Linked DNA regions of Homo sapiens. The protein of the gene in region 2 purifies or fractionates together with the protein of the main gene of each other region. This does not show direct contact. Each region holds a gene or a part of one and is shown on either strand. Other genes may lie near its edges.

Region 1 (7,055 bases), on a different chromosome or scaffold from region 2:
GTGGTGGCGCACCCCTACAGTCCCAGCTACTCGGGAGGCTGAGGCATGGGAATCACTTGAACCCTGGAGGCGGAGGATGAAGTGAGCTGAGATTGTGACACTGCACTACAGCCTGGGTAACAGAGTGAGATCCTGTCTCAAAAAAAAAAAAAGAAAAAAGAAAAAAGGAAAAAGAAAAAGAAAAAGAAAAAAGAAACAAAAACAAAAACGAAAGAAGACAAATTTCAAGCCAACCACCTAACTTTACATCTTAAGGAACCAGAAAAAGAAAAGCAAGCTAAACCTAAAGCTAGAAGGAGGAAATAATGATTAGAGCAGACATTAATAAAATGAAGAACAGAAACACTCATAGAGAAAACCAATAAAACTAAAATTTGGTTATTTTAAAAGGTCAACAAAATTTACAAACCTTTAGCTAGACAGACTAAGAATAAAAGAAGGCTCAAATTACTAAAATCAAAAATGAAAGTGAGGACATTACTACCAATCCTACAGAAATAAAAAGAGTTCTAAGAGTCCTATGAACAATTGTACACCAACAAATTGGAAAACCTAGATGAAATGGACAAATTCCCAGAAACACAAACCTACAAAGACTGAATGATTAAGAACTAGTAAATTGGAATAGACCTATAGCTAGTAAGGGGACTCAATCACTAATCAAAAATCTCTCAATAAAGAAAACCCTAGAGCTGATGGCTTCACTGGGTAACTCTATCAAACATTTCAAGAACACCAATCCTTCTCAAACTTTTCTAAAAAATATAAAAGGAGGGAACACCTCCCTAACTCATTTTATGAGGCCAGCATTACCCTAATACCAAAGCCAGAAAAGATACTCCAAGAAAACTATAGACCAATGTCCCTTATGAACACTGATGCAAAAATTCTCAACACAGGCCAGGCATGGTGGCTCACGCCTGTAATCCCAGCACTTTGGGAGGCCAAGGCGGGAGGATCACCTGAGGTCGGGAGTTCGAGACCAGCCTGACCAACATGGAGAAACCCCATCTCTACTAAAAACACAAAATTAGCCGGGTGTGGTGGCACATGCCTGTAATCGCAGCTACTTGGGAGGCTGAGGCAGGAGAATCGCTTGAACCCAGGAGGCAGAGGTTGCGGTGAGTCAAGATCGTGCCATTGCACTCCAGCCTGGGCAACCAGACCAAAACTCCGTCTTGAAAAATAAAAATTAAAAAAATTATCACCACAATAGTATCAAATCAAATTCAGCAGCATAGTAAAAGAGTTCATCATAAATCAATTGAGATTTATTTTTGGAATGCAAGGACAGTTCAAGATATGAAAATCAATCAATATAAGTCATTAACAGAACGAAGGGAAAAAAACATGATCATTTCAATTGATACAGAAAAAGCGTTTGACAAAATTCAACTTCCTTTCATAAAAATACTCAACAAACTAGGAACAGAAGATAACTATACATCAACATAATAAAAGCCATATATGGAAACTCTACAGCAAACATCATATTCAATGGTGAAAGACTGAAAGCTGGCCAGGCACGGTGGCTCACGCCTATAATCCCAGCACTTTGGGAGGCCAAGGCGGGTGGATGATGAGGTCAGGAGTTCAAAACCAGCCTGGCCTCTATGGTAAAACCCTGTCTCTAATAAAAATACAAAAATTAGCTGGGCGTGATGGCATGTGCCTGTAGTCCTAGCTACTTAGGAGGCTGTGGCAGGAGAATCGCTTGAACCTAGGAGGCGGACGTTGAAGTGAGCTGAGATTGTGCCACTGCACTCCAACCTGGGCAACAGAGCAAGACTCTGTCTCAAAAAGAAAAAGAAAGACTGAAAGCTTTTCCTCTAAGTTCACTAAGAAGGCAAAAGATTTCTGCTTTTGCCACTTCTATTCAACATAAAACTGGAGTTACAGTCAGAGTAATTAGACAAGAAAAAGAAATAGGATTCTAAATTAAAAAGGAAAAACTAAAATTATCTGTTTGCAGATGATATGATCTTACATGTAGAAAATTTTAATGATTCCACAAAAAACTTTTAGAACTAATAAATGAATTCAGCACAGTAACAGGATGCAAAGTCAACACACAAAAATCAGTTGCATTTCTATACACTAACAACGAACAATCTGAAAATAAAAATTATGAAAATAATTCAGTTTATCAGTGCGAAAAGAATAAAATATATAGAAATTAAATTAACGAAAGAGGAGAAAGATTTGAACAATGAAAACTAAAAAACACTGCTGAAGAAAATTAAAGATGACATCAACAATTGGAAACACATCCCATGTTCATGGATTGGAAGATTTAATATTAAGATGTCAATGCACCCTAAGTGACCTACACAATCCCTACTATAATCCCAAAAGTGTCTTTTGGAGAAACAGAAAAACCCATCCCACAATCCATATAAAATCTCAAATAGTGAAAACAACCTTTAAAAAGAGGAATGGGGCCGGGCGTGGTGGCTCATGCCTGTAATCCGGCACTCTGGGAGGCTGAGGTGGGCGGATCACCTGAGGTCAGGAGTTCGAGACCAGCCTAGCCAACATGGTGAAACCCCATCTCTACTAAAACTATAAAAAATTAGCCGGGCATGGTGGTAGGCGCCTTTAGTCTCAGCTACTTGGGAGGCTGAGAAAGGAGAATCACTTGAACCCAGGAGGTGGAGGTTGCAGTGAGCCAAGAGTGCACCACTGTACTCCAGCCTGGGCGACAGAGCAAGACTTCGTTTCAAAAAAAAAAAAAAAAAAAAAAAAAAAAAAAAAAAAAGAGAGAGGAATGAAGGTGGAGGACCCAAAATCCCTAATTTAAACTTACTGCAAAGCTACAACAATCGAAATACTACAGTTCTGGCATAAAGACAGATGTATATATATATTAAAAAAACTTTTTTTACGACAGATGTACAGAACAATGGAATAGGATAAAGAGATAAAAAATAAACCCTTGCCTACATAGTCAAATGATTTTTGACAAGAGTGTCAAAACCATTCACAATGGGGAAAGGGCAGTCTTATTAAGAAATTATGCTTGGAGGCCGGGTGCGGTGGCTCACACCTGTAATCCCAGCACTTTGGGAGGCCGAGGTGGGCGGATCACAAGGTTAGGAGATCCAGACCATCCTGGCTAACACGGTGAAACCCCGTCTCTACTAAAAAATACAAAAAATTAGCTGGGCGTCGTGGTGGGCACCTGTGGTCCCAGCTACTCGGGAGGCTGAGGCAGGAGAATGGCGTGAACCCAGGAGGCAGAGCTTGCAGTGAGCCGAGATTGTGCCACTGCACTCCAGCCTGGGCGACAGACAGAGACTCTGTCTCAAAAAAAAAAAAAAAAAAAAAAAAGAAATTATGCTTGGAAAGCTAGATTTCCACATGCAAAAAAATAAAGTTGGACCATCACCTAACACCATACAAAAATTAACTTGAAATGGATCAAAGACCGAAATGCAAATGTAAAACAACATAATACTTAGAAGGAAATACAGGTCAAAAGTTTTATGACATTGTATTTAGCAATGATTTCTGGGATATGACTCCTAAGGCACAACCAACAAAACAAAAAAAATTGGCCGGGTGCGATGGCTCACGCCTGTAATCCCTGCACTTTGGGAGGCCAAGGTGGGTGGATCACCTGAAGTCAGGATTTCAAGACCAGCCTGGCCAACATGATGAAACCCTATCTCTGCTAACAATACAAAAAATTAGCTGGGTGTGGTGGTGCATGCCTGTAATCCCAGCTACTCAGGAGGCTGAGGCAGGAGAATCGCTTGAACCCAGGAAGCAGGGGTTGCAGTGAGCCGAGATCACACCACTGCATTCTAGCCTGGGCAACAAGAGCAAAATTCCATCTCAAAAAAAAAAAAAAAAAAATGACGAACTGGGCTGCATGAAAATTTTAAAATATCAACATGATACTGAAGGAAGAAAACAGAAAAAAAAGAAAAAAAAAGACACTATCAACAGCATAAAAAGGCAACCCAGAGAATGGGAGAAAATATTTGCAAATCATATATCTGATAACAAATTAACATACTGAATACATAAAGGATTTCTAAATCTCCACAACAACAAAACCCTATTTGAAAATGGGCCCCATAAAGGGGGCCAATTATTTGAATAAACATTTCTCCAAAGAAGACACAGGAATAGCTAATAAGCATATGAAAAGATGCTCAACATCACTAATCATTAGGGAAATAAAAGTCAAAACCACGTTTTACATCCTTTAGGATGGCTATGATTAAAAAACAGAACAAGGCCAGGCATGGTGACTCATGCCTTTGGGAGGCTGAGGCGGGAGGATCACCTGAGGTCAGGAGTTCAAGACCAGCCTGGCCAAAATGGTGAAACCGTGTCTCTACTAAAAATACAAAAATTAGCCAGGTGTGGTGGTGGGCACCTGTAATCCCAGCTACTTGGGAGGCTGAGGCAGGAGAATCACTTGAACCTGGGAGGTGGAGGTTGCAGTTGAGGTGAACCTGGGAGGTGGAGGTTGCAGGTTGAGCCGAGATCGCGCCACTGCATCCAGCCTGGGTGACAAGAGCAAAACTCTGTCTCAAAAACGAAACAAAATAACCCCAAAATATTTAGTGTTGGTGAGGATGTGGAGAAAATGGAACCCTTGCGTAATGTTGGAATGTAAAATGGTATGGCTGCTGTGGAAAGCAGTATGACAATTCCTCAAACATAGTATTACCATATGATCTAGTAATTCCACTCTGGATATATGCCCCCCAAAATTAAAAGCAGAGTCTCAAAGAGATTTATATATCCACGTTCATAGCAGCATTGATCATAAAATGATAGCTAAAATAAAGAAGCAACCCAGTGTCCATAGATGGATAAATGGATAAGCAAAATGTGGTATAGCCAGAAAAAGGAATATTACTCATCCTTAAAAAGGAAGGAAATTCTGGGCCAGGCGCAGTGGCTCACACCTGTAATCGCAGCACTTTGGGAGGCCGAGGAGGGAGGATCACCTGAGCTCGGGAGTTCGAGACCAGCCTGACCAACATGGAGAAACCCAGTCTCTACTAAAGATACAAAATTAGCCAGGGGTGGTGGCACATGCCTGTAATCCCAGCTGTTTGGGAGGCTGAGGCCAGAGAATCACTTGAACCCAGGAGGCGGAGGTTGCGGTGAGCCAAGATCGCACCACTAGACTCCAGCCTGGGCAACAAGAGTGAAACTCCATCTCAAAAAAAAGAAAAAAAAAATTGTGCAATGGTGCAATCTCAGCTCACCGCAACCTCCTTCTCCCCGGTTCTAGCGATTATCCTGCCTCAGCCTCCCAAGTAGCTGGGATTACAGGCATGTGCCCGGCTAATTTTGTATTTTTAGTAGAGACGGGGTTTCTCCATGTTGGTCAGGCTAGTCTTGAACTCCCGACCTCAGGTGATCCTCCTTCCTCAGCCTCCCAAAGCGCTAGGATTACAAGCATGAGCCACCGTGCCCAGCCGGAAATTCTGACACAAATTCTTACCACAGATACCACAGAAATGAACCCTGAAGATATTACGCTAAGTGAAATAAGCCAGTCACAAAAAGACAAATAACTTGTCATTTGTAGCTTCTCAGAAATTATTCTCTAACGAGAACAAAAGAAAACAAAAAGACAAATACTATATGATTCCACTCACATGAGGTAGTTACAGTAGTCAAAATCAGAGACAGACAGTAGAATGGTGGTTGCTGGGGGATGGGAGGCAGGGGTATTGAGAAGTTATTGTTTAATGGGTAGAGTTTCAGTTTTATAAGATGAAAAAAATCTGGATATGGAATGGTGGTGACAGCTGCAAAACAATATGAAAGTTGCAAAACAATATGGAATGTTAAACAATATTTAATACCACTTAAATGTACATTTAAAAATAGCTAAGATGGTAGATTTTATATGTATTTTATTATTTAAAAAATAGAAAAAATAAACAAAATGAAACAAAAATACCTCTTGTTTTGACTAATCCACCAACTTGAAAGACATTTGCTTTTTTTACTTTCAAAATTTAGCATTGATTTTCCATTTTGATTTAACTTTGTTTTGACATTTGTTTCATTTTACTTTCAAAATTTAGGGACTGATTTTCCATTTTGATTTAACTTTGTTTTGACATTTGTTTCATTTTACTTTCAAAATTTAGGGACTGATTTTCCATTTTGATTTAACTTTGTTTTAGTAATAGCTAAAACATTTATAGGGTTCCATACTCAAAACTATTAAAACAGGTATATTCAGAAAATTATAGCTGTTCCATCGTATTCTGTCATCCCCCTACAGGTAGCTTGTTTGATTTGGTCTATGCTTCTTTTCTATTTTAATAGAAGCTAACACATATTCATATACTCCTCTCTTCTTAAAAGGTAGCACAATTTACACATTAAAGAAAAATGCATTTTAAAAAGATATACATACTTCAATATATAGGCTTTTTGGTGGTTTCATATCCTGTGTAATGTCCAAACCTTCATCTCCTCCCAGTGACCTCATATAAGTAGCAAGAGATCTTTTATAATTATTAAACCACTCCATCTGCAAACATAGAGATGATCATTTGACAAAATTCTAAGAAAACTTGCACACACTGAATATCATCCATTCGAAAACAGTACACATCCCAACACAAATCACTGTTGTGACCATTCATTCATTAATGCTAAAATATTAATTGCCTCCTATGATATAGGCATTGGTCTGGGTACTTACAATGAATCATTCAATAAAGTGAACAAAAATCTCTGTTCTCAGAGAGCTTACATTTCAGCATACTTAATAATAAACCTTAGGAATCTTTGACCAGAAACAGAACCATGAAAAAGACGCCATTTCAGAATTATATCTTCAAACTCTGCATTGATGCTATTTCTGAAAACTATAAAACATTGTTAAGAAAACCCAAATGTCCACCAGCTGATGAATGGATATGTGCCCATATGATGGAACATTATTTAACCATAAGTAACAATGAAGTTCTGAAACGTATTGCCATTACCACATGAAAGACAGAAGGCCACATATTGCATGATTCTACTCATATGAAAAACCTGTAATAGGTAAATCTATAGAGACA
Region 2 (3,995 bases):
CTGTGGGTAGGGGTGAGGGGGTGGGGTGGGAGAGCCTTTCCTAACACTAACCTTTCTTATTTGTAACTACCCCCTCTACCTGGCAGGAAGAACTCCAATCAGGTGTTCTCACGATTTGGCCCTAACACATCTAACCTCAAAATCAGCATTCCTAAAATCTGCCTTATCCCCTTAATCTTATTTCTGTATCATTATTGTACATGTGCTTCCCAATACTTGGAATCTCCTCCACCAAAAGCAAAGTCTTTCCTGTAAATCCTCCCGAGATGCTATGTTCCCCACGATACTTTGCAAGTTTCACTCCAACTAGTCAGTAAGTTCCCAAAAAGCATTCTTTGAACTACCCTAGCACCTATGAGGGCCAGGCAATGTATCGGCCTTTCATGTGACCTTTTAACTATTAAAGTAACTCCTTAGAAAACATGTAAAAATCTTGTATTTACCAAAAGTGTAAACTGCAGAACTATATAGCAATGAAAACCTCCCATAAAGCCTGTAGATAGTTTTTAAGATAATTTTTACTTCTTTTAAAAAATTGACATTAATATTCAGTATATATGTACATCTCAAAACTTCACCCAGGCTGGGCGCGGTGGCTCACACCTGTAATCCCAGCACTTTGGGAGGCCGAGGGGGGCGGATTACCTGAGGTTAGGAGTTTGAGACCAGCCTGGCCAACATGGTGAAACCTCATCTCTACTAAAAGTACAAAAATTAGCCAAGCGTGGTGGCACACGCCTGTAGTCCCAGCTACTCGGGAGGCTAAGGCAGGAGAATTGCTTGAGCCCAGGAGGCAGAGGTTGCAGTGAGCCAAGACTGTGCCACTGCACTCCAGCCTGGCCAACAGAGTGAGACTCTGTGTCAAAAAAAACAAAACAAAACAAAACAAAAAACTTCAACTAGACTACTCTGGGCACACTGTCCATGGATTAGCCCTGCTTTGCAAGGAGCAGTAAAAAACAGAAACAAAACCTCCCAACTTAGTGAAAACAAGGCATTCAATGACAGACCAGCAGCAGAAACTGCTTATTACCTCCTAATCATTTTATGAAGAAATACCTATATAAAAACAAACACTAAAGAGAACAAATAGATTTAACTAAAGTGACAAGCATAATTATAAATAAATACCAGATTATCAGATTTTAAACAATAATCTATAACAGTTTTACTATCTAAGGATTTTCACTCCAAGAAGAAAAAATACATAGTAACGCCAAGCTTGCAGGACGATGACTTAACAGATACATTTTCTCTTAATGGAAACTTATCTAGCTTCAGTAATATTTCTGGATGTAGCATCAAGTTGCTGTTGCACATTTTTAAAAGACTGGTCCAGCAGTGTTTCCTCTTCATTTAAAGTATTGGCAATAGCATCATTACATGGATTGTCCAGAATGTCTTCGTTTAATCCATTTGACTCCTCCTTTTGATCCTCATCAGTATTAACCTCTTCAACCGTGTGTGCCCTGGGTGTATTCATTAACATATCTGAAAGAAATCATACCATTATTATTCATTATAAGTACCTGATCCAATCTTACCGCATGAGTACAAACCTCTTCAAAAGCTCAGTTTAGTAAAATGAAGTCTAAGATCACTTAATGTTAATTATGATCACTTTCTTCTAAATATATCTTTTTTTTTTTTTTTGAGATGGAGTCTCGCTCCATCACTTTGGCTGGAGTGCAATCGCACGATCTGGGCTCACTGCAACCTCCACCGGGTTCAAGTGATTCTCCTGCCTCAGCCTCCCGAGTAGCTGGGATTACAGGTACCCGCCACTACACCCGGCTAATTTTGGTATTTTTAGAAGAGACAGGGTTTCACTATGTTGGCCAGGCTGGTCTCGAACTCCTGACCTCAGGTGATCCACCCGCCTCAGGCTCCCAAAGTCCTGGGATTACAGGCGTGAGCTACCACGCCTAGCCAATAAGCCCATTTTTATACAATTAAGATCCATTTTAAATGCAAGAGAGGCCAGGCCCGATCCCAACAATGTGGGAGGATCATTGGAGCTCAGGAGTTCAGGACCAGCCTGGGCCACATAGTGAGACCCCATGTCAACAAAACATCAAAAAAAATAAAATAAAAAAAAAAATAATTAGCTGGCTATGGTGGCGAACCATGATCGTGCCACTGCACTCCAGCCTGGGTGACAAAGTGAGATCCTATAACCAAAAAAAAACAAAAAAAAAGCAAAATGGTTTTGAATGTTATTCAACTCACACTCTTGGATCATAGTCAAATGTAACTGTTCTTATTCAAAATCAAACTACTATTGGCCAGGCACAGTGGATCATGCCTGTAATCTCAGCACTTTGGGAGGCTGAGGCAGGCAGATCACTCAAGGTCAGGAGTTTGAAACCAGTCTGGCCAATATGGTGAAACCCTGCCTCTACAAAAAATACAAAAATTAGCCGGACATGGTGGAGCACGCCTGTAATCCCAGCTACTCGGGAGGCTGGGACAGGAGAATCGCTTGAACCTAGGAGGCGGAGGTTGCAGTGGGCCGAGATCAGCAACTGCACTCCAGCCTGGGCAATACAGTGAGGCCCCATCTAAAAAAACAAAACTGAAAACTACTAGAAAGAGGTCTAATAAAAACCAAGTGCGTTTAGGTTTTATGTCAGAGTGATCCATAAGAAACTTTAAAGTACTTATTTCCATTTGGACAAATTTTAAGTTGTATATGATAAACAGAGGTGAGCTTTAAATACCAACTGCCAGGTATACTTGATATTGACAGCAAAGAAGCCACTGCCATCAAGAATAATGCTATCTTCATGTAATGTTTCACATGGTACTAATAAAACATCCATTTATAAAGAAAAAGTAAATTGGCCAGGTGCGGTGGCTCACACCTGTAATCCCAGCACTTTAGGAGACCGAGGTGGGTGGATCACGAGGTTAGGGGATCGAGACCATCCTGGCTGATACGGTGAAACCCTGTCTCTACTAAAAATACAAAAAATTAGCCAGGCGTGGTGGCAGGCACCTGTAGTCCCAGCTACTCGGGAGGCTGAGGCACGAGAATGGCATGGACACGGGAGGCGGGGCTTGCAGTGAGCCGAGATCACGCCATTGCACTCCAGCCTGGGTGACAGAGCAAGACTCCGTCTCAAAAAAAAAAAAAAAAAAAAAAGGAAAAAGTAAATTCAGCTGGGCATGGTGGCTCACACCTGTAATCCCAGGACTTTGGGAGGCTGAGGCAGGCAGATCACTAGGTCAGGAGTTCAAGACCACCCTGGCCAACACAGTGAAATCCCTTCTCTACTAAAAATACAAAAATTAGCCAGGCATGGGGGCACGCACTTGTAGTCCTAGCTACTTGAGGAGGCTGAAGCAGGGGAACTGCTTGAACCCGGGAGGCAGAGGTTGCAGTGAGCCAAGATCACGCCACTGCACTCCAGCCTGAGCTACAGAGCAAGACTCCATCTCAAAAAAAAAAAAAAAAAAAAAAAAAAGCAAAAAGAAAAAGTAAATTCATCTTAACTGAAAAAAAAAGTAGCCAAAATAATTTTCACTTAAAAATGTTAATATATTGGGTGAAACTTCGTTTACAACATGGTATCTAGTTATTATAATTCTTTTTTTTTTTGTAGAGACGGGGACTCACTATGTTGCCCAGGCTGGTCTTGAACTCCCAGGCTCAAGTGATCTGCCCACCTCAGCCTCCCAAAGTGCTGGGATTACAGGCAAGAGACACTGTGCTGGGCCTATAATTCTTATTTTTCCATTTTGAAAGGAAAAACTGAATGGGAAATTAAGAAAGATATACGCAATCCTGCTTACTTCATTCAAAACCAACTTGCAATTCTTTCTAAATATAGTTTTAACAAATTTGGTTATATAGTTTCCAAACCCACAATGTGTGTTAAAAACAGCAAATTTAGGCCAGGTACACTGGCTCATACCTGCAATCCCAGCACTTTGGAAGCCCAATGCTGGAGGATTGCTTGAGACTAGAAGTTCAAGGCTGCAGTGAGTCAAGA

The links. The genes of interacting proteins can lie anywhere in the genome.
Region 1: the proteins of TIPIN (region 2) and GINS1 purify together in Homo sapiens (affinity purification with mass spectrometry; 3 studies listed by BioGRID and IntAct, with this or other methods). This does not show direct contact.

Annotation. Positions count from the first base shown.
Region 1 is NC_000020.11:25,424,673-25,431,727, reverse strand, and holds part of GINS1 (DNA replication complex GINS protein PSF1), read right to left. Parts: intron 6,518-7,055; coding exon 6,401-6,517; intron 1-6,400. UniProt on the Homo sapiens protein: Required for correct functioning of the GINS complex, a complex that plays an essential role in the initiation of DNA replication, and progression of DNA replication forks.
Region 2 is NC_000015.10:66,335,691-66,339,685, forward strand, and holds the end of TIPIN (TIMELESS-interacting protein), read right to left. Parts: intron 1,492-3,995; coding exon 1,268-1,491; 3' UTR 501-1,267; downstream 1-500.